Linked DNA regions of Homo sapiens: region 2 is linked to region 1. The links come from fine-mapping of genetic effects on plasma protein levels. A gene starts in region 1. The other region holds a variant in brackets. All regions are shown on one strand. Distances are from middle to middle. Region 1 holds the start of KAZALD1 (Kazal type serine peptidase inhibitor domain 1). Region 2 overlaps TLX1NB (TLX1 neighbor).

What was found. A credible set is the group of variants that fine-mapping cannot tell apart. PIP is the posterior inclusion probability: the model's chance that the variant is causal. The UK Biobank Pharma Proteomics Project read protein levels with antibody pairs (Olink). The fine-mapping took linkage between variants from a reference panel, not from the people measured, so its PIPs are less certain.
Region 2: its variant is the best candidate, but not a certain one, in a credible set for the plasma level of the KAZALD1 protein (UK Biobank, PIP 0.60).

Annotation. Positions count from the first base shown.
Region 1 is chr10:101,052,946-101,064,345 of GRCh38, reverse strand. KAZALD1 (Kazal type serine peptidase inhibitor domain 1) reads right to left here and starts at 2,357. Exons shown (of 5, transcript NM_030929.5): 1 at 2,231-2,357; 2 at 1,243-1,804; 3 at 1-85. The coding sequence starts at 1,753. LOC107984262 (a long non-coding RNA gene) reads left to right here and starts at 3,595. Exons shown (of 2, transcript XR_001747569.3): 1 at 3,595-4,236; 2 at 4,690-5,751. RefSeq lists silencers at 1,643-1,692, 2,873-3,292 and enhancers at 1,605-2,493, 3,420-3,714.
Region 2 is chr10:101,105,199-101,117,183 of GRCh38, reverse strand. All of the region lies in intron 2 of TLX1NB (TLX1 neighbor), which reads left to right. Among named protein-coding and RNA genes, the nearest start is that of TLX1NB, 20 kb to the left of the region's middle. The variant A/G (reference allele first, on the strand shown) is at 5,309.

The sequences.
Region 1 (11,400 bases):
GGGTAGGCAAACACTTCACAGCCAAAGATCACATCCTGCCCTGTCACATTCCAAGTGTCATATGGATGTGACACGATCTGGGGCCCTGGGGGTGAAGGCGGGAGGTCTGAGAATAGCATGGCCCAGCAAAGGCATCCAGTCTGGCAAAGACATGATACACAAATTTTTGTGGACATGCTTGTGGCAGAACACAATATATGCTGAGGTAAATACACATCCATAAACACACCGTGACACACACAGGTACACACAGATATGGATGCTGGTACACACAAGGGTACCACGCAGACGTGGAGATAGGTATACATGCACATGTGCACATAGAACCTCATGCAGACCCAATGCACAAACAAGCACACACATCTACATTGTAGCTTGGCAGCCACTCTGTCCCTAACTGCTCCCCTGTCCTCATTTCACCCTCCCCAGCCTTTCCTGCGTGCCTGTAATCAAAACCTTCCAGATCCCCCTTCCCCTTTTCTAAACAGGCCCAGTTCCCAAAGGAGGAAAAGCAGCCGTTCCCTCCTCAGTACCCCCTGGGGGAGTCCTGCGGCAAGGCAGAGAACCTGAAGCTGGACTTGTGCGACAGGCAGGAAGCCTGCAGGAGTGGAGGAAATTGCTGGGACCCCCACGGGGTGTTTGTTTTCTGGCTGCCCCAGCCGAGCCAGACGCAGAGCCCGGGCTCAGGAAGTGAAAGTTACTAAAGCTACCAAGGAAAGCTAGAGGCCTGAATGGACCCCAGTCCCCAGGGATAGAGAAAGAACTTCCCGCTCCCCTTCACTAATCCCTAAAAGCAGGAGAAAGCAGAGAGGTGGGGAGACTGGGTGAACAAACTGCTCTAAGAATGAAACGTGATTGCATCTCACAGGAACCCGTCTTGCTGCCTGGACTCCACTGGTCTGGGAAAAGTCGGGGGGGTCTCTGAGCAAACCATAGGTTATGTGCCTGCGCCCTCAGAGGACCTGTCTCTCCCTGCCAGCCAGCTCTGGAGCTTTCACGTGGTTCAGCGAATGCAGCTTGCTGACGAAGCCCGGGACTCCCACTCCACTCCACCCCCCACCCCCACCTTAAGGTGGCAGCTTTTATGAACCAGTAGCGAGAGCAGGGTTTTATACTGGACTCGAGGCCTCTATAGCCTTATCTTTTTTGCTCTGCTGGCCAGAGACCAATGCTGTCAGGGGTCGGGGAGCAGTGCCTCTAGGAAACCTAAGTGCTGGGGTGGGGGCCCCGGGCCATGCGTACCCGATTCGCAGGGCCCCGGGTGTGCCACAGTGAGGTTGGCATCGGGCCGAGCGCGGGCCGCCTCCTGCAGGCGGCAGATCTGGGAGTAGGTGTGACCGTCGGACCCGCAGAGCGGACTCTGCGAACGACAGGCACACAGAGGTTCCGGCACCTCTCCGCGGCTCAGGTCGCCGCCTGTGTCCAGCCGGCACTCAAGCTGCTCGCCGCAGTGCCCGTAGAAGTGAGCACTGGGGTCCAGGTCGCAGAGCTGGCCCTCGAGGTTGGCGCATTCCCAGCAGCAGCCGCACGCGTCGCGCACCCTGCCCGCCAGGCAGCCCCGCGGCGCGGCGCACTCTTCTGGCCGGCAGGGAGCGCAGCCCTCGCCCTCCGCTAGCAGCCGCATCCAGCCGCGCCGCAGGTAATCTGGGCCTGGGGATGGCCTTGCGCCGGTCGGGGGCGGCGTCAGCACCACCAGCAGTAGCAGGAGCACAGGCAGCGCCAAGGCAGCTGCGGGCCGCGGCGGCGGCAGCATGGTTAGCGGGAAGCCCTGCGAGCACTCGGGGCATCAGCGCGTTCGGGCACCCTGCCAGGAAGGGAAGCCAGGTCAGGAGGTCAGAAACAGGGCCTGTGCCGAAAGACCAACCTCACTGCTTCTTGTACCAAAGCATGACACTAGCATCGCCCCCTCCCCTGCTACCAAGTAGCCTCCCCCAACACACAGGCCTAGTGACCCTCTAGGGATTATCCAGTTATGGCAGTTAGCAATCAGTTGGGCTGTTCTTGGGAGGGCTGGGAGTGAAGAGAGGTGAGGAAAGGGTGATAAGGCTCAGGCGCACGCACACCCACCACCAGCACCACTTCCGTGCACCACCCGACTCCGATCCCTGGCCCCTGAGCATCCTTGCCCAAAGAGAATGGGTGGCTCCAGAAGTAAGAAGCTGCTAATGGGGGGTGAGAACTGGGGGGGCTGATGCCGCCTCGCTTATGGCCTGGGGCACAGAGTGCTCACCTAGTGTCCGGAACTAGACCCTTCGCAGCAGCCGTGATTCGAGTCCGAAAGAAAAGGTTATGGAAAGAAAGCAGAGGCGCAGTCAGCCGGGCCCGCCGGCCACCTCTGCTCCGTCCTGAGGACTTCTGAGAGAGCCCACGAACTTGGATTCAGAAAGCAGCTCCTCCGGCCCCCTCTCTCCGCCCCTCGACTTCGCGCACCCGCCTTCCCACTAGTTCTAAGGCTGCCAATTTTATGTAGCCGCATGGGACCCTCCCGGGTCATTTCCCCCAGCCTGGCCCAAAGTCACAATGCGAGCAGAGGAGCCGTAACCAGACACCGAGGCTGGGAGAGAGGAAGGGGGTGAGGACCGGAGGCGGGGAGTGGGGGTAGGAGTTTGGCTGGGAAGCTCAAAGTGTTGGCTGAACGGCTAGGCCCTGTCCCATCTGATTTTACAGTCCCTGGCGTCGGCGAGGGCAGCTGCATAAGGGGGAGGCGGCAGGAGCTCTGGTGCCAAGTCATTTTACGTCGATGTCGGGGCGCTCCTGGAGGGCAGGACCAACCACCTTCGTCTCCCCGCAGCCCAGGGCTGGTTCCCGGGAGCGACCGCAGGCTTGCCCACCCAGCTGCCCCACCAAGGCGCGGACAGACTGGGCGCCTACATCCGCCTTCCCTCATCTGGCCTCCTTCTTCCTCCCCACATCCGGCAGGTGCTGCGACCCGCGGGTGAGCCGGGTGATTCGAGGTCGGAGCCGACCAGCGGCCGCAGGGAGAGGCGGGCTGGCGCCTCCCCGGCGGGCGTCCCTCGGGTCGGGATTACAGGTTACGGTTGCGAGGCTGGCAGGGCCGGAGACACTCGGCCTCGCGGCCGCCACCACCGCCACCGTGGCACTTTGGGCCGGGGGCGGGGAGGAGAGCATTCCTAGGGGCCCGCCAGCCAAACCCGGGTCGGGCAGGCCCCGCCCCGGCCGGCCCCAAGCGGCTCACAGAAGCCTTGGCGCAGTCCAGCTCGCGGGGGGATGGGCGAGGGTGGGGGGCAGAAATAGCAATCTGCAGCCGGCAAGGGGGCGGCACTTAGTCAGGCTCCGCCCACAAGACCCGGCTGCCGTCCCCGCCCGCCTGCGCGGGATCGACTCCGCATGCGCACTGGAGCCTCGGAATACAGCCAGGACTCTCCCGTCGGAATGCGCCCCTAAGTTGGGCCAAGCCCATTCATTCAGGGGCTCCCGAGCCACGTAGGCGCCATCCCTGGCCAGAGGGGTTCTGAGGAGGTGGGCAAGGGCAGACACTCTCTCCCGGTCTCAAATTCGAAATAGGGACTAGAAGGGAACTTCACGCGAGGCCTCGCAACTGTCGCGAGAATCAGAACAGGAAATCTAGGAACCGAGAACACTAAGAGCCCGCGGATTTTAAACAGGAAAAAGAAAGGGCGGAGCAAACTCTGGCGGATAGTTGTGAGTAATCCCTGGTCCTTGGAATAAGTGTCGACCTGAGACAGAAGGGGAACTGTCAGAGAGCTGCCGGAGACCCTGAAAAAGGCCAGAGACGGGGACTTGTGGGGCTGACGAATGGAATCACCCAAGGAGAGGTCTCTGACTCTAACAAAACACCTTGGGGACGGAGCTCCTTGGCTGGGATACAGAGCAGACAAGTCCGGGATCTTTTAGTGAATTGCTGCCGGCTTCTAAGGCCTGGAGCAGATATTCAACAACAAACTCCACGGACCTAGAAACTCTCCACTTATCCTACTATTGTAGACGGTGGCTTACTTTTAGTCTTCCCTATGCTCTAAGCTTCTGGTAGTAGGAATCGTGCCTAACTCACTACTGTATCTTGTGAACCTAGCCCCGCGCCTGGTGGCACGTCAAATTCTCGGTAAATATTTGTGGATTAAATGTGAAAGACTGCCTGAGTGTTTAACCTGGATTTTCTGAGTCGCTGATGGAGAACAGTAGGTAGACGGGGAACCAGCGCCCTCTGGTGGGCTTGTGGTTCGTGACGAGAACATGCTGGAACCGTGCATCCAGGTAGGCACAAAGATAATAAAAGGGGATCCGCTGTTATTAAGTAGAGATTTTGTTACATTAAAACCCTACATACCGTAAAAATGCTTTTAGAAGGGAGTTTTTTGAATAGGACACAACTTGAAAGTTTAGATACATTCCCCGATCCTCAACATCCCATACTTTATCCATCAAGGCTCCAAAATATTCAGTAACACCTATGCGCATCATACATAGTAAAGAGATAGCAAATGATTTTGCGTATATATACTTTGAAAATGTTTACTCGGTTTTGTGCAAAACAGGCCAAAGGGAAGGGATTTTCTAGCCTAGATGATGTGAATACTGCTAGGGAGAGGAGCCAGGTGGCAGCATCCTTTGCATTTAATGAGGGAGACTAGATCCAGATGGGCAGGGTGAAGTTGAAATTTGTTGAATAATAGATGGTCCCGCCTCTTTTTTCCCCTTTTCCTGCAGATGCTTGTATTGAAGAAGGAATGAGGTATAGAATGTAGTTTTCTTTCCACTGTGAAGCCCTGTGTTCACAAGATTATCATACGTTCACTTTCAGTCACTGACACATGAAATAACTGAAGTATAATGACAGAATGATGAGCTGGAGTGTGGTGGTGCACGCCTGTAGCACCAGCTACTTGGGAGACTGAGGCAGTAGGATCCCTTGAGCTCAAGGGTTCGAGAGACCATGTCTCTTTAAAAATAGAAGTTTAGGGCCAGGCGTGGTGGCTCATACCTCTTAATCCCAGCACTTTGGGAGGCGGAGGCGGGTGGATCACCTGAGGTCAGGAGCTTGAGACCAGCCTGGTCAATATGGTGAAACCCTGTCTCTACTAAAAATACAAAAATTAGCCCAGCGTGGTGGTGCACGCCTGTAATCCCAGCTACTCAGGAGGCTGAGGCAGGAGAATCGCTTGAATCTGGGAGGCAGAGGTTGCAGTGAGCCCAGATCACGCCACTGCACTCCAGCCTGGGTGACAGAGCAAGACCCCCTCTCAAAAAATAAAAATAAAAAATAGAATTTTAAAAATAAAAGAGTGAAAAGAGCCCTATACAGATGAACAACAAAAGATGAAACAAGGCATACAGTCATTGTTTAATTTGGTAAAGAAAAGAAATTACTTCAAATGATCCACATATTTCAACCTGTCACTTCACAAACCCTGTTTTGACACAGCTGGTGAAAATAGTAGAGTTGCAACTTTGAGGAAGAAGCAGGAATGAAACAAATGGTCCATACTGACCTATTAAAGACGGATATGGAGAAATTGTGCTTCCTGTGAATATTAGAATTGGTTGATTAAAAAAAAAACCTCAACATAGATAATTAAAATGGAATACTTTGTAGCTACCAACTATGACAAATAGGTAAACTCAAAATAATGTATGTAGGAAACAAAGTGAAAAGTATGTATGGAAAAATAAGGTTAAGAGAAAAGAAGAAGTATATGGATACTGATCACAACTGTATGTGTATTTATCATCTATATCATCAATAAACATCCTAAGAGAATTTGGAATGAGGCTAATGGTTGAGTGTAATACTCACTACTGCTTTATAAGTTATTTTTCCTTTTTTTTTTTTTTTTTTTTGAGACAGAGTCTAGCTTTATCGCCCAGGCTGGAGTACAGTGGCGCAATCTCAGCTCACTGCAACCTCGGCCTCCCGGGTTCAAGCGATCCTCCTACCTCAGCCTCCTGAGTAGCCACCTGGCTAATTTTTTTTTTTTTTTTTTTTTTTTTTTAAGTAGAGACAGGGTTTTGTCATGTTGGCCAGGCTGGTCTTGAACTCCTGACCTCAAGTGATCTGCTCACCTTGGCTTCCTAGTAGAGGCTATTTTTATAGGTAAATTAGAATGTCAAGATAAATGTAGCAAAGCTGGGGTGGCCAGGTAAAAAGATTGGCTGGGCACAGTGGTTCATGCCTGTAATCCCAGCCCTTTGGGAGACCAAGGTGGGCGGATCACCTGAGGTCAGGAGTTCGAGACCAGCCTGGCCAACATGGCAAAACCCCATCTCTATTAAAAATACAAAAATTAGCTGGTTATGGTGGCGCATGCGTATAATCCCAGCTACTTGGGAGGCTGAGACAGTAGAATCGCTTGAACCCAGGAGGCGGAGGTTGCAGTGAACCGAGATCGCGCCACCACGCCAACCTAGGTGACAGAGCAAAACTCCATCTCAAAAAAAACAAGAAAAGAAAAGAAAAAGGAAAACATAATTCAGCTATAAGTAGTGTTACAAAATGAAGACTGGAATAGCCAGGAACTGGCTTTCTGGAATACCTAGGCATTAAGGCAAGTTGAATAAGCTTCAGGACATCTAAATCAGGCCTCAGTCTACCTTCGTATATCTCAAAAGGCAATCCCTCCCCCTAACACCCACCTTCAGTATCCCATTGACCCTTGAAATGGTGACTGTAGCTCCATCCAACCTGATGACTTGGCCAAATGTTATATTGATAAACTTAGAAAAGATGCTTAAATCATTCCACATGTACATTGTTTCTACATTTCTATTTCTTTCTTTCTTTTTTTTTTTGAGACAGAGTTTCACTGTTGTTGCCCAGGCTGGAGTGCAATGGCACAATCTCGGCTCACTGCAACCTCCACTTTCCACGTTCAAGCAATTCTCCTGCCTCAGCCTCCCGTGTAGCTGGGATTATAGGCATGCACCACCATGCTAGGCTAATTTTGTATGTTTAGTAGAGACAGTGTTTCACCACGTTGGTCAGGCTGGTCTTGAACTGACCTTAAGTGATCCACCCACCTCGGCCTCGCAAAGTGCTGGGATTACAGACGTGAGCCACCGCGCCTGGCCCTTTCTACATTTCTTGTTCTCATTTTGTTTTTAACTTAATTTCATTATGAAGTATAATAGACAAGCAGAAAAGTGCACAAAGTAGATATATGGTTAAATTAATTATTACTAAATGAACACTTGTGATTATCCAGGTCAAGAAACAGAACATTGCCAACACCCTCAGAAGCCCCCATCATGCCCCTCCCCGATAATTTTCCCTCCTCTTCTCCCTAGATAACCATTTTTTTGTTTGTTTTTTTGATTTGTTTGTTTGTTTTTGTTGAGACATGGTCTTTCTCTGTTGCCCAGGCTAGAGTGCAGTGGCGTGATCATGGTTTGTTGCAGTCTCAAAGTCCTGGGTTCAAAGGATCCTTCCACGTCAGCCTCCCAAGTAGCTGGGACTACAGGCACACCACCACACCTAGCTAATTTTTTTATTTTTATTTTTGCAGAGACAAAGTCTTACTATGTTATCCAGGCTGGTGTGGAACTCCTGACCTCAAGCAGTCCTCCCACCTCAGCCTCCCAAATTGCTGGGATTATAGATGTGAACCACTGTGCCTGGCCAATAACCACCTTTAACTCTATACTTTAAGTTTACCTGGTTTTGACATTTATAGAAATTGGGACATGCCTAGGATTGGAATTACTGCTTCATGTGATATGCATATTCAACATTAGTAGATTTTCTTTTCCTTCCTTCCTTCTTTCCTTCCTTCCTTCCTCCTTTCCTTCCTTCCTTTCCTTCCTTCCTTCCTTCCTTTTCTTTCTTTCCTTTTCTTTTCTTTCTTTCCTTCTTTTCTTTCTTTTTTTTTCTTTTCTTTCTCACAGGGTCTCACTCTATCTGGGCTAGTCCCAAACTCCTCGGCTTAAGCAATCCTCCCACCTCAGCCTCCCAAAATGCTGGGATTATCAACATTAGTAGATATTACCATACACTTTTTCCAGTGTGATGTATGAATTTATATAGTCTTCAGCAGTTGATGAGTTTTCATTATGCCACATCCTTGCCAAGAGTTGGTATTGTTGTTGTTCTTTTAAATTTTAGCCATTAGGTAAAAATTTTAGAGCCTAAAATTTTTAAATGGCCAGTTCTGCAAGGATTTCCTCTCTTGGATATTTTTTTAAAAACCTTTTATTTTGAATTTTAGACTTGGATAGAAGTTGTGAAAATAGCAAAGAAATTTCCCATGTACCTGTCACCTAGCCTACCCTGGTGATAACATAATATCTTATATAACCATGATATAATTATCAAAACCAGGAAATTGAAATTTATACAGTACTATTAGCTAAACAATGGACCTTATTTGGATATCACTGGTTTGATATTACGTGTGTGTGTATAATTGAAATTTTATTGCATGTGTAGAGTTGTGTGACCATGAGGTGAGTAAATGGGTCTTCAGGGGTATGACAGGGTAAAACTGATGCCAAGGGAAAAGCTAGTAGACTCTATAGTACTAAACACAATGTCATTTAATATATGAGTAGCTTTAAAATTATTATATCAAAAGTCAGTGATAGGAAAGGCAGCTAGTTACGGTAGCTAAACACACACAGCTGGGTGCGGTGACACATGCCTATAGTCCCAGCTACTCAGGAGGCTGAGGCAGGAGGATCACTTGAGTCCAGGAGTTCAAGTCCAGCCTGAGTGAAATAGCAAGACCCCGTCTCTATAAAAACAACAAAAACCCACTCTCACACATTTGCACACTGTGCGTCTACCTGTTGGGGGAGCTGTGCACATGGGTAAAGTCCCAGGGTCACTGGTTGAAGTTCACTTTGCATTATGACACACTCAGAAGGAAAGATAAGTTTCTGCCCTTACATCCAATTTTACTTGAAGACAACTTTCTGTAGGTGAGGCCAGTGAGATAACTTTCTGCTGACACCCCACAGCATCCTCGTTCCTTCTGCCGGACTTCCAGATTTCTATTTCTGGCCCAAACCTCTCTCCTGAACATCACTCCATGGATTCGTCTACAACCACTTCTAGTATTTTCTTCCACAGCCAGGGAAGAAGTCCATAAACAGCTCCCGGCTACATCATACTTAGGACGCCCAGAAAAATGTATCAGTATATCACATCTCAGGGAAACCTTTTATTGACTCTGTTTAGGTGATGTGCTCAACAATAATTCACCACATGGCCCAGGAGCCACCACCCTGGACCACAAACCCCATAGCAGATGCAGTCAGTACCTCACTCATATACCCTTGGCTCACTCCAAAGGTTACCTGCAGATAGTTCCTTTATGACCCGGTGTGTCTGTCTGTCGGAGGGAGTTCTTTAGCCCCTAGAGTCAGCTTGGCTGACATGCAGGGCAGGCTGGAAATGCTGTGGAGGTAACAACTCAGGAGCAAGCCACATCCGGTGAGGAAAAACAATAGAGGACAGATAATCCTGTTCCTTACCCTTCAGTGGGATAATTTTGAGGTGTGTTCTCCACAGTTTTGCAGAAGGCTTAGAGAGACTGAGTCACAGTTGTCCTCAGTGGTAACCTGCTCATTAATGCATCCTTTATTTGGTTTTCCTCCTCTCTCTGACTTCCCTTCCCCCTCACTGTGTTTTCTGGGATAAACTCCCAAATAAACTACTTGTACCAAAATCCTTGCCTTGGGATCTGCTTTCTGGGAAATCAAAATTAAGACAACCCCTGTAAAGGGAGGAGGCCATCTTCCTGAGTGCCCCATCAAGACCACAGGGACCAGGGGGAGATCTTAGACCCCAAAACCACATTGTGACAATATCTTTGCTGACATCCCACTTTATTTCCTTCCTTTTTTTTTTTTTTTAAGAGATAGAATCTTTTTCTGTGGCCATGGCTGGAGTGCAGTGGCATGATCATAGCTCACTGCAGCCTTGAACTTCTGGCGTTAAGCAATCCTGCCTCAGCCTCCCAAGTAGCTGGAACTACAGGTGCATGCCACCACACCTGGATAATTTTTTTTGGTAGAGACAGGGTCTGGCTCTGTTGCCCAGGCTGATCTTAAACTCCTGGTCTCCCAAAGCACTGGATATCCCACTTTTTTCTTCTTCTTCTTCTGTTTTTGAGACAGTGTCTCTGTCACCCAGGCTGGAGTGCAATGGCACGATCTTGGCTCACTGCAAGCTCTGCCTCCCGGGTTCAAGCAATTCTCCTGCCTCAGCCTCTTGAGTAGCTGGGATTACAGGCACTTGCCACCATGCCCGGCTAATTTTTTTGTATTTTTAGTAGAGATGGGGTTTCGCCATGTTGGCCAGGCTGGTCTCGAACTCCTGACCTCAGGTGATCTGCCTGCCTCGGCCTTCCAAAGTGCTGGGATTACAAGCATGAGCCACTGCACCCGGCCTGGATATCCCACTTTCAACCTTTGCACTTGAGAAATAACAGAGTCTAGTGTTGGCTTCTGTGGAGTGTTGGGACTCCCCTCAGCTGACCAGTTCACTGAAACTAAGGAAGAGCCTGACAAGTGTATGCTCAGAACTCCAAGCAAGAAACAGTGGGGGCTTTCTCAGGGCTGATGGGAAATAAAAAGGACTAATTAGCTAGGAACTACTTGGCTTTTAAGCAACCAAACCACATGGAGAATCTCAGGTCCCAGCAGAGCATCAGAATATGATTCATAGAATGCTGTGCATGTATAAAAGTTCATAAGCATTCCATGTCAACATACTCAGCCTGCCAAAATCCAGAATTTTTTGTGCCTTTTCTATCATTTTCCCCAAGGGTAAGATACAAGAAGAGAGGTAGCAAAATGTCACAATCACAGGACCAGGAGCAGTGGCTCATGCCTGTAATCCTAGTGCTTTGGGAGGCCAAGGCAAGAGGATCACTTGAGGCCAGGTGCCTTGGGCACATAAGGATACCCTGCCTCTACCCCCCTCCCCAAATAGCTTAGCATGGTGGCCTGCACCTATAGTCACAGCTACTTGGGAGGCTGAGGTGGGAGGATTGCTTGAGCCCAGGAGTTCAAGGCTGCAGTGAACCACGATTGTGCCACTGCACTCCAGCCTGGGCGACAAAGCAAGACCCCGTCTCCAAAAACAAAACAAAAAAGTGGCAATCAGGAGAACTTCCCAACAAACCTGCTGGATCTGTCCCCCAGTGTGGGGGATACAGATGGGAAATCTGTTGAGTAGAATTAAATAGAAGTTGATGAACTAAAGAAGTGTGTAGAATTTGAGGGCTCTAAATTGGGGGTTAAGATCCCCTGGGTCCTGGGACTTTTTGACTTGCTGTCACACTCCCCTCAACAACTTTTTTTTTTTTTTTTTTTGAGAAAGGGTCTTTCTTCATCTCCCAGACTGGAGTGCAGTGGCGCAATCACAGCTCACTGCAGCCTTGACCTTCTGGGCTCAAGCAGTCCTTGTGCCTCAGTCTCCCA
Region 2 (11,985 bases), 53 kb before region 1:
TGCATGCTGGGTGCAGTGGCTCACACCTGTAATCCCAGCACTTTGGGAGGCTGAGCTGGGCAGATTGCTTGAGCTCACGAGTTTGAGACCAGCCTGGGCAACATGGTGAAACCCCGTCTCTACAAAAAATACAAAAATTAGCTGTGTGTGGTGGTGCCATGCCTGTAGTCTCAGTTACTCAGGAGGCCGAGGTGGGAGGATGGCTTGAGCCTGGGAGGTGGAGGTTGCAATGAGCCGAGGTGGCATCGCTGCCCTCCAGCCTGGGCGATAGAGCCAGAACTTATCTCAAAACAACAACAAACAATGCAAAGTTAAATTTTTAAAAAATTGAAGAAGATGATATATTTTTATGGGCTATACTCAGAAAAAGCACAGGTTTTAGCTTTTGTGTGTGTGTCTCACTCTGTTGCTCAGGCTGGAGTGGAGTAGTGTGATCGCAGCTCACGTCAGCCTCAAACTTCCAGGCTCAGGCGATTCTCCCACCTCAGCCTCTCGAGCAACCGGGACTACAGATGCATACCACCATGCCTGGCTAATTTTTGTATTTTTTGTAGAGACAGGGTTTCACCATGTTGCACAGGCTGATCTCGAACTCCTGAGCTCAAGCAATCCTCCTGCCTCAGCCTCCCAAAGTGCTGGGATTACAGGTGTGAGCCACCGCTGGTTTTAACCTTAATAAGATCAAGAGATGAAGCATTATGAGTGATATAAACATACATCATGGTGGTGTTTAATGTTGATGAAGTTTTTTGTTGCTGAGAAGGTAAGAGTTCAGTAAAACGGGGAAGGGAGAGGGATGTGTTTGCACCTTTCTGTCAGCACAGAGGAGACCTTGGTGCTGCTTGTGAAAGGGCTGCGCCTCTACCTGCTGTGGGTCCAATGGGGGTCCTGGCAGCAGAGCTCCAGGGCAGCTAGCTGGGGATACTCACTCATCTTCCAATCTGATCCTGAGCCTGTGCTTTCCTGTCCCCAAACCAGACTCAGATACCTGCCAGCCACCTAGAAGCCAGATTGCTGGGGTGCCAATTCCAATCCTCCACTTAAAAACCAGGCAAGGCCGGGAGCGGTAGCTCACGCCTGTAATCCTAGAACTTTGGGAGGCTGAAGCAGGCAGATCACCTGAGGTCAGGAGTTTGAGACCAGCCTGGCCAACAAGTCTCTACTAAAAACACAATAATTAGCCAGGTGTGGTGGTGTGTGCCTGTAATCCCAGCTACTCCAGAGGCTAAGGCAGGAGAATTGCTTGAACCCAGGAGGCAGAGGTTGCAGTGAGCCGAGATTGCGCCACTGCACTCCAGCCTGGGCGACAGAGCGAGGCTCTGTCTCAAAAAATAAAATAAAATAAAAATAAAAAAATAAAAACTGGGCTGGGACCATGGCTCACACCTGTAATCCTAGCACTTTGGAAGGCTGAGGCAGGAGGATCACGAGGTCAAGAGATTGAGACCATCCTGGCCAACATGATGAAACCCCATCTCTACTAAAAATAAAAAAAATTAGCTGGGCTCAGTGATGGCAGGTGCCTATAGTCCTAGCTACTCGGGAGGCTGAGGCAGGAGAATTGCTTGAACCCGGGAGGCGGAGGTTGCGGGGAGCTGAGATCGCGCCACTGCACTCCAGCCTCATGACAGAGCGAGACTCCATCTCAATAATAATAATAATAATGATAATAATCATAATCATAATTATAATAACTGGGTGACCTTGGACCAGTAACTTGACTTTCTAGACCTCAGTTTTCTCATCTGGAATTGGGGATAATTACAGCATCTCTTCATAGACCTCCTGTGAGGGTTAAATTCATGTAAAGCCCACAGAATAGTGTCTGTCCCAGAGTAACTTAGGAAAAGTTGGCGATGATTCAGGCTGGAGTTGAGTTGAGGGAACTCTAACAGGGGAGGCAGAAAATGGTGATTGACTTCTGTGATGCCTCTGTCTCCTAGGTCTTTGGCTGGTTTTTGAAGCTGAACCCACCTGGTTTTCTCCTTCATCTGATGCAGCAAGAGAAATTTGGCCAGGAGGGGGCCGTTGGTGCAGACCAAGCATCCAGTGGGAACACACAGGGGTCAGCTACCTTGGATTCCTCCTCCCCACTTGGGGGTTCAGCTTCCCTATTTCCCCCAGGGACAAAGACCCAGCCAGGTCACTCTCAGGGATTCAGGGAAAATAAGCATTGTGTCTGGGGCATAAAGAAAGGCCAAGTTCTGGGCATGTGGCTGCAGGCATGTCTTACGGGACAGAGACAGCCCCCCCAGCCGAGGACTGGCCTCCCAATAACTCTGTTCTGCCTGGAGTGTCCTTGTGCTGGACTTCCTCCAGCAACCTCACCCTTACAGAAAAATAGGGATGCTTTTCTTGAACTTCCTCTTTCTATTCCTCCTTCTAAGTCAGGGACAGATGGGGTGGCAGGGGTGGGAAGTATACTGATCTGTTTCTTGTCACTGTTGCCCCTATGTCCTGATATAAAAACCTGGGAGTCTTGTCTTTTTGGTGAAAACTCAGTTTATTGCTACATTTTATTATTATATCACTCATTAAAATTAGCCGAAATAGGACTTTCCAGGACCTACTTAGTGGCCACATAGTCGCCTCTGGGAGGAACAAAGGGAGTGGCTGCTGGGTCCACAGAGGATGAAGAGACATGCAGGGCAGGGGTCTTTCAGAGCCACATCGCAAAGTGCTTTCTTCTCTTGAGACTGGACCAGGTGAGCCTGTAAGAGCCAAGGTGACTACAGAATAAAGTGAAATGTCAGCCCTGGGGGGAGGGGGGCCCAGAGGTCAGCTGCAGAGAAGGGGAAGAGGATCCTGCCTGGCCCCACCGAGAGGCCAGCCCCACATAAGTGCTTGAAGTTTGAACTCAGACAGAGTCGGGGTTGATGACCAAGACCCTTCTTTCATTCATCCACCCATGCATTTATCTATGTATCCACTTATTTATCTATGCAGCCAACTTTATTGAGTTTTGCTCCAGGCCAGGACTGTCTGGTGCTGAGCTGAACAGATCTGTAGGAAAGGAGTTTGGGACAGACCCATAGGATGTGGGTTTGGCAATTCTTTCTTTTCTTTTCTTTTCTTTTCTTTCCTTTCTTCCTTCCTTCTTTTCTTTCTTTCTTCTTTCTTTCTTTTTCTCTTTCTCTCTCCTTCCTTCCCTCCCTCTCCTTCCTTCCTTCCTTCCCTCCCTCTCTTTCTTTCCTTCCTTCCCTCCCTCCCCTTCCTTCTTTCCTTCTTTCCCTCCCTCCCTCCCCTCCCTCCCTCCCTTTCTTCCTTCCTTCCTTCCTTCCTTTTTCTTTCTTCAATTTGCCACATTGCCCAGGCTGGTCTCGAACTCCTGAGCTCAAGCAGGCCAACTGCCTCGGCCTCTCAAAGTGCTAGGATTATAGGCATGAGCCACCATGCCTGGCCAATTCTTTTATTTCTGAATCAAAGCCAGAATCAACCACTTCTCAACCTTTCTGGGATTCCTGGTGACTTTGTAGTTTGCCCTGTGTTTGTTATTTTTGCTAACCCCTGTTTGCCTATAGTTCCTGATGATCAGAAAAATAAGCAAACCGAGCCTACAGCAGGAGAAGGGAGATGTATGCTTGTTTCAGAGCCCAAGAGCGGAAGAGACCTGGAGAGGCTGCAGAGAGAGGAGTCCAGGGAGGGGGAGCCAGAAGTCAGAGCTCTCCTACCTGTCCTCATCCCTCCCCCATGACCATCATCCTCTCCCTAATGTCCCCAACCCCCTCCCACATCCCCTGTTCCTTTCTCCACCCCCTACTCCCTCTACATGTCCCCTAGCCTCACACAGGGGTTCTCATATCCCCTCCCCCTTGGGAATCTGGCCTTGGGCCTCCGGTGCTGGAGAACTTGGGCTGGGCCTGAGCACCCCCTCCCTAATGAGCATTCGTTCTGGGATGAGCTCTGGCCTCCCAGGGTCAAAGGTGGCAGCTTTATTTACTCACAGCCATGCTCTCACTGCCCGGCTCCTTTCATCATTTTTTTTTATGATGGAAACAGCCCAGTGGCCACAGGCGCCCTGGGGGACCACCCCACGACCTCCCCTCTCCCCGAGCCCCCAGACACAGACACTTGTATTCCTCCAATAAGGGCTCAGGTTTCTCAACAAAGTACAGCTTTGCTCTCAGGACAGTTTTCAGCTGTCGATTTTATCACATTCACATTCTGTTCAGAGCCTGAGCCAGAGAAGCTGGGAGCTGGCCAGCATGTGAGAGTGAGCACGTGTGTGTGAGAAGCAGGGCGACGTGGGGGCTGAGGGTGCAGGGTGAGAGTGGGCATCTGTGGGTGAAATCCCAGGTCCGTATGGTGTGTCTGCTTTAAGAATGTTTTCATGTGTGTGAGAACCTGTGTGTGTATAAGCATGAGTATCTGGGGACAAGTATTACATATATCCATTTACCCCCAAAATAGCATAGGAATACTGTTGCCTGCACTTTCCCCTACATGTGCCCATATGGCTCATCTCGCCAACTTGCCCCGTGCTCTTCCTCCTCTCTGCTCCTCACCCCTCCAGGTGAGGTGCTTCTGTGCAGGAGGCACGTGGATCTGGGTGGCCAGCCTCAATGTGAGACGCCTGTCCAAATCAAGGCTCTCCTCACTGCCGCAGCCCTCCTGCCCACCTCCACCTCAGCTTTCTTGGCCTCCTCACTGGAACTCATTGACCCCCTTCTAAAGCAGTGTCCTGGCCGGGCGCGGTGGCTCACGCATGTAATCCCAGCACTTTGGGAGGCCGAGGCGGGCGGATCACGAGGTCAGGAAATCGAGACCATCATGGCTAACATGGTGAAACCCTGTCTCTACTAAAAATACAAAAAAATTAGCCAGGTGTGGTGGTGGGCGCCTGTAGTCCCAGCTACTCGGGAGGCTGAGGAGGGAGAATGGCGTGAACCCGGGAGGCGGAGCTTGCAGTGAGCCGAGATCGCACCACTGCACTCCAGCCTGGGCGACAGAACGAGACTCTGTCTCAAAATAAGTAAATAAATAAAATAAAAAAAAATAATAAAGCAGTGTCCCTGGGGGAAAAACCCTGATCAGGGAGGAGTTAGCCCTCCAGGAGCCCCCAAGTTGGAGTCCTGGAAGGGGTCAGACCTCAGGTGTGCACACAAATGTGGCAGTATTGGAAGGCCAGCCACTCCACAGAGGGACAAAAGACTTATGGACGGAGGTCGTGGCTGCGGGGTATTAGGCAAGAGTGGCTTCTGGCTGATGTTTGCTCTAAAATTTAAAAAAAAAAAAAAAAGGAGTGGCTTCTTAGGAGAGAAAAGCCTGAAGAGGGCCTCTCTTTGGGGACCCTCCAAAGGTGGCCCTT[A/G]GTCACACTATTTAAACTCCCAGGATCTGATTTCTGAACCTGGAAAGCGAGAGAGAGCACTCTGGGCTCCAGCACCATCCCCGTGTGGTGTCTGTGCCTGCAAGTATCTATGTGTTCATGATTGTGTACTCGTGCCTGCGGGTGATGTGTTTGACAGTGTGTGCTTGTGTGATGAATACACACAAGCCGACAGGTGATGATTTCCCAGTGCGTGTGCTCATGCCCCATGGAGGGGGTATAGCGGTTAGGTCCCATTTTAAATTACGTTATCCCATGTGTCTCACAAGCCCTTGCCTGACCCTATGTCCCAGTTTTGCATTCAGAATCTCTGACTTCTGCAGGTCTCTGGGACATAGGGCCTACACTGGGAACGGGGCTGTGCAGCCCAGGGGTGGAGGTCAGCCTGTCTTAGCTCCCCCATCTCCCTCCAGGCTGGGCTCTGGCTCTGAGCACATTTGCACCCCTCCTCAGGCTGCCACCTGTCTGGGCGCCTGAGGAACCCGGCTCCATTCCAGGCCCAGGTCCCTCCTCCAAGTCAGGGTCCCTCCCACCTTCTCTCAAACCTGCTCAACCTGCCTGGCAGCCCAGCATCTCCCAGAGGTGCCTCCAGAGGTGGGATGCACTGGAACAGCCCTCCCAGCAGCATCAGAAGCAGCAAGAGCTGGGAGTGGGGTGGGTGGGAGGGCAGGCTGACCCTGCAGAAGAGGATGGGGAATTAAGCTTGCCACTGCTGCTGGAATGACACCTCTCTCTGACCTGAGCTTGCAGAGCCTCCCTTATAAACTGCTCCCGCCCCCGCCTTGCCCCTCCCTGCCCCTGGCTCTTGGATGGCCTCTGAGAGTGACCTACTTTTCTCCACCCCCACCCTCAGTGGTTCCCTCCTGGCTCAGCTGATATTTTATCTGAGTGACCCAGGGGCACAATGGGTATATTGCCACCCCCAGAAGTGTCCTGGAAGCATCGATGGTGGGATGCAAGCTAGATGTGTGTCTCTCCTCCACTCCCAGGGCTCCCTGTTAGGATGGGAGCTCTGAGCAAGCCCAGCTTCCTCAAGCACTCCAGATGCTCGCAGTTACCAAAGTTAAGTGTCTACAAACAGACTGAAAGGATGGACAGAGCCACAAAGCCCCTCTAATGGGGGAAGGGTCAGACAATGTTCCTCCTTTTATTATTATTATTATTATTATTATTATTATTATTATTATTAACTCCTGGCTTCAAGTGATCCTCCCCACTTGGATTCCCAAAGTACTGGGGTTACAGGCGTGAGCCACCGTGTCTGGCCACCTGCTCCTCCTGTTAAAGGGATGAGAAACATTAACATGCTCACGTAGATACACAAAATAAAAAACATTTGTTGAACACCTACCATGTGCTGGGGGATGTTCTAAGAGTTTTACATGACTTAGTTCACTTTAACCTTCACAGCAATCCTATGGAGTAGGTATTATCCCCATTTTATTTTTTTATTTTTTATTTTTTTATTTTAGAGAGGCGGGCAGCTTGCTCTGTCACCCAGACTGGAGTGCAGTGGTGCCCCACCATGCCTGGCTAATTATCCCCATTGTTTTTATTTATTTATTTATTTTTGTTCTGTGGAGATGGGGTCTCACTATCTTGTCCAGGCTGGTCTCAAACTCCTGGGCTCAAGCTGTCCTCCTGCCTCAGCCTCCCAAAGTGCTAGGATTACAGGTGTGAGACACCTGGCCTAATTGTCCCCATATTAAAGACAGAATGACTGAGACACAAAGAGGCTAAGTAACTTGCCCAAGATCATATCTCCAGTAGATACTGAATTCAGGATTCAAACCCAGGCAGCATGGCTACTGACAGCGTGCTCTTCACCACCGCTTTACAATATTTGCATAATTCCCCTGAAGGATATACACAGCCACTCATATTTAGGACAGGCCACCTCACATACATAATTGTGCATAGAAATACATCATTACCTAGTTGTTTATCATAACTAACATTTATACAGCAATTTATTTACAAATCACTTTCACACCCAGAAACAATGCCCAGTGAAGGATGGGTTGTTAACTATTTAACAGATAACAATTAAGACTACGTTTACTGACTCAACTGGGGCTCAGCTATTTGGCTGGGAGCGGTTCATCTTTTCTTTTCTTTCCCTTCCTTTCTTTAAATAAAAATAAAGCATGCTTCATAGTAAAATTAAAACAGGACAAAAGAGAATAAAGTGAAAAGTAAAAGGCTCCCTCCTTCCTCCTGTTATTCCCATTTCTGGAGGTATGCCCTTCCAAAAATTGTCAGTGCACACGTAAGTAAACAGTAATAGAGATTATACATGGCTTCTCATTCTTGCGAGGAAGTCTTTGTGGAGAACCCCTTGTTCTCCTCATTTTACACATTAAGAAATCTCTGGCCGGGCACGGTGGCTTATGCCTGTAATTCCAGCACTTTGGGAGCCTGAGGCAGGTGGATCACGAGGTCAGGAGTTCAAGACCAGCCTGGCCAAGATGGTGAAACCCCATCTCTACTAAAAAATACAAAAATCAGCCGGGCGTGGTGGCAGGCACCTGTAATCCCAGCTACTCACTCAGGAGGCTGAGGCAGAGACTTGCTTGAACTCAGGAGGCAGAGGTTGCAGTGAGCCGAGATCGTGCCACTGCATTCCAGCCTGGTCGAAGAGCAAGACTCCATCTCAAAAAAAAAAAAAAAACAAAACTCTTAAGAGTGGGGTACTGCGTTTTATTTTTATTTTTTTTTGAGATGGAGTCTCGCTCCATCCACAGGCTGGAGTGCAGTGGTGTGATCTTGGCTCACTGCAACCTCCGCCTCCAGGGTTCAAGCCATTCTCCTGCCTCAGCCTCCCGAGTAGCTGGGATTACAGGCATGTGCCACCACACCCGGCTAATTTTTGTACTTTTAGTAGAGATGGGGTTTCGCCATGTTGGCCAGGCTGGTCTTGGACTCCTGACATCAGGTGATCCGCCTGCCTCGGCCCCCAAAATACTGGGATTACAGGCGTGAGCCACCGCGCCGGCCCGGTACTGTATTTTAACAAGCTCTCTAGGAAAAAAGTGGCATAGCTCTCCAAGGCCACTCAGGTACTAAATGGAAGTTAGGATTTCAGCCCAAGTCTTCCCGACCTGGAGCCCATGTCCCCCACTGCCCTTGCCCCAGGGCCCATTGCCTCCTCCATCCCCTGTTGGCACCTGCTGGCTCAACACCCCTAGAGCCAAGACTCTGCTGCTCTGAGCCTTTCAGGGTAGGGCGAGGGCCGCGCTGGAAAAGGACATTCCCTTTGGAAACTTAATCTAAGGGAGGACTTGCTGAGCTAAGCCCTGCTGAGGGGGAGGCCAGGGAGCAGGCCTGGGGACTTGACTGAGACCCAGATCAGCCAAGGGATGGGCTCCCAGGATGCCCCCTCAAGCCCCCGGCAGGCTTCACTGCGGCCTTGAGGGCTATGGAGAGTGGCAGGTAACAGGCCTCAGTCTCCACAGTAGCTCCAGCCAGGGACTCAGGATAGGGAGAGGAGGCGGGGTCTGGGGCTCCCAGGGAGAAGAGGGGCCTGTAGATGAGAACTGCAGCCCCCCAACAACATCCGCCTCTGGGAGAGGGACTGAGCGGGGGCAAGAAGAGTATCATTTCCAGCTTCTGGGGTGAAAGGGGGCTCTGGAAGCCCCTGCCCCTGCTGTGACCCCTCCTGGGTAAGTTTCCCCAAGGGCCGCTCAGACCCGTCCTCAGCTCTTCCATTCAGGGCCTGGGTCCCTGGCAGGGCTGGGACCTTAGGAGACAAAATTGCTAAGACTCAGCCATAAACCCAGCTGCTGAGGATGTATGTGTATTTGTTACGAATGTCTCCAAGTGGCTGGCCACAGTGGTGCCACGGCATTCTGACCCAGGTGGCCTAGGCTGGTCATGCAGGACTTTGCTGGGTCTTGCGTGCCTCAGGCCTGGACCCAGTCCTCACACCTCCCGTCCTAGTGTGGAATCTGGAGAACAGGCCAGGGCCAAGGCCAGGATGGAACCTATCTTCCCCCAGAGGACACTTTGGAACAGGGTACTCAGTGAGGTGCCCCCTTCCTATCTGGCCAAGAGGGAGCTTGCCAGGAATCAGGGATTCCTGAGGTCAGTACTCGGTGGAGGGAGAGACAGCCACGGTGAGACTTGCAGAAGCCAGAGGGAGACTGAGATTGGACTCCTCTCTCCACAATTTCCAGGCCAGGCCAACCCAGGGGACAAGGCAGGCCTCCCTGAAAGCCCACCCTCTCCCTCCTTGGTTCATGGCAGAGCCTCCCCAGTCCCTATCACCTTAAGGATCATGCCTGCACACCCTAACCTAGACATGCTACCTTTGAAGCGCCACAGCTCTGTTGTGATCAAGGTGGGCCTGCATGGGACACCCCGCTTCTCTCTCGGATGCAGTAGCACTGCACTGGGCATCAGAGGGCATAGGACTGAGCATAAGCTCAGCTTGGCTTCTAACTGACTGAGGGATTTTGGACAAGTCACCTCCCTACTCTGAGCTTCAATTTGGCCACCTGTAAAACATGAGAGTTGAACTTCATTTCGAATCGTGGGAATCTGGGTTTGAGCTGGGGAGTGTGGGGTTGGCCATGGGTGTTCTTCTTGGTGAACAGAGCAAGGAGCAGAGTAGAGACCCCTAGGAGATATTACTGGTCAAGAAGAGAAGATGTATGTGTATTTGCTATGAGTGTATTTATGATCATATATAGTATGTGACGTGTACATATACATGTGGAAGCATAAATACACATGTAAGGGTGTGTGTGTGTGTTTGTGTGTGTGTGTGTGTGTTTACGGCAGCAGCTAATTGATCCCTGCCTCCCAGTTGCTGTGGGGGAAGGGGCCGAGAAGGCAGTCACTCATTAGAGGCAACTAATGGGCCCAAATGGCCTTGTCAGCAAAGGCTGAGCTTAGATGAGCTTCCTCCCGAAGTGGGGAAGGAAAAAGATGTGAAATAGAAAAAGGAGGGGAGAAGAGAGCAAAGAAGGCGGGCAGAGGCCTCAGAAAGAATGAGGCTTCCCCAGGAGAAACTACAAGGATTGCAGTATCCTCACTTTATCCCTGTTAATAAATATTCCTCCTGCCAAGAGAAAAAGTTCCTGCTTTTTCTGACCCAAGGAAGTAGAGGGCAGAAAACTGTCAAGGGAAGAAAGGCAGACACATGTGTATTCCCATGCCCACAAGCACAGGTGTGCTAGCTGCATGCATATGGCCACACTGAGACGCAAGCATGTGGGCTATGTCGATGTGCAGTCTCAACACTTGTCATGCACGTGCTTACCCAGAGACACCCCCCCCACACACCAGCCTGAGCATAGGGAAGTGTGGGCATGTGCCTGGCACGGGAAGGTGTATGCGCATTCACCCAGGGGTGCTGGCTCTGTGTTGGTGCAAGGGAGACAAAAATGAGGAGGACACAGTCCCTGTCCCCCAGCTGACATTTTATTTTATTTTATTTTATTTTATTTTATTTTATTTTATTTTATATTTATTTTGTTTTATTTTTGAGATGGAGTTTCGCTCTTGTTGTGCAGGCTGGAGTGCAGTGGCATGATCTCGGCTCACTGCAACCTCCACTTCCTGGGTTCAAGTGATTCTCCTGCCTCAGCCTCTTGAGTAGCTGGGACTACAGGCGTGTGCCACCACACCCATCTAATTTTTTTGTATTTTTAGTAGAGATGGACTTTCACCATATTGGCTAGGCTGGTCTCGAACTCCCAGCCTCAGGTGATCTGCCCACCTCAGCCTCCCAAAGTGCTGGGATTACAGGCGTGAGCCACCGTGCCTGGCCCTCCAATGGACATTGTAGTTGGGAAGAGGTTGCTTGCTAAGGAAACGGATCATTTATATGATGACACAGGGTGTACTGGAAAGATGCCCAGCGTGACTGTAGTCCCCGCTACTTGAAGGGTGACATGGGAGGATTGCTTTAGCCCAGGAGGTCAAGGCTGCAGTGAACCCTGATGATGCCACTGTACTCCAGCATGGGCAAGAGGAGGAGACACCATCTCTAAAGAAAAAGAAATTAAATTAAAATAAAATTGTGTGTGTGTGTGTTTGGTCTGTCACCCAGGCTGGAGGGCAGTGGCAAGATCATAGCTCACTGCAGCCTCGAACTCCTGGGCTCAAGCAATCCTCCCACCTCAGTCTCCAGAGTAGCTGGGACTACAGGCACACATGCCACCATGCTTGGCTAAATTGTTTATTTTATATTGTGTAAAGATGGGAGTCTTGCATGTTGCCCAGGCTGGTCTCAAACTCCTGGCCTCAAGCAATCCTCCTTCCTCGGCCTCCCAAAGTACTAGGATTACAAGCATGAGACACTGCACTCAGCCAAAATACAACACATATTAATAACCAGAATTAAGAATTTCCAACACATTAATAAGAAAAATATTTTTGAAACCCCAGTTTTTAAAATAGGCAACTGGGCACGGTGGCTCACCCCTGAAATCCCAGCACTTTGGGAAGCTGAGGCAGGTGGATCACCTAAAGTCAGGAGTTCAAGACCAGCCTGGCCAACATGGCGAAACCCTGTCTCTACTAAAAATACAAAAATTAGCTGGGTGTGGTGGCAGGCACCTTTAACCCAAGCTACTCGGGAGGCTGAGGCAGGAGAAGCTCTTGAACTTGGGAGGCAGGGGTTGCAGTGAGCCCGGATCGCCCACTGCATTCTA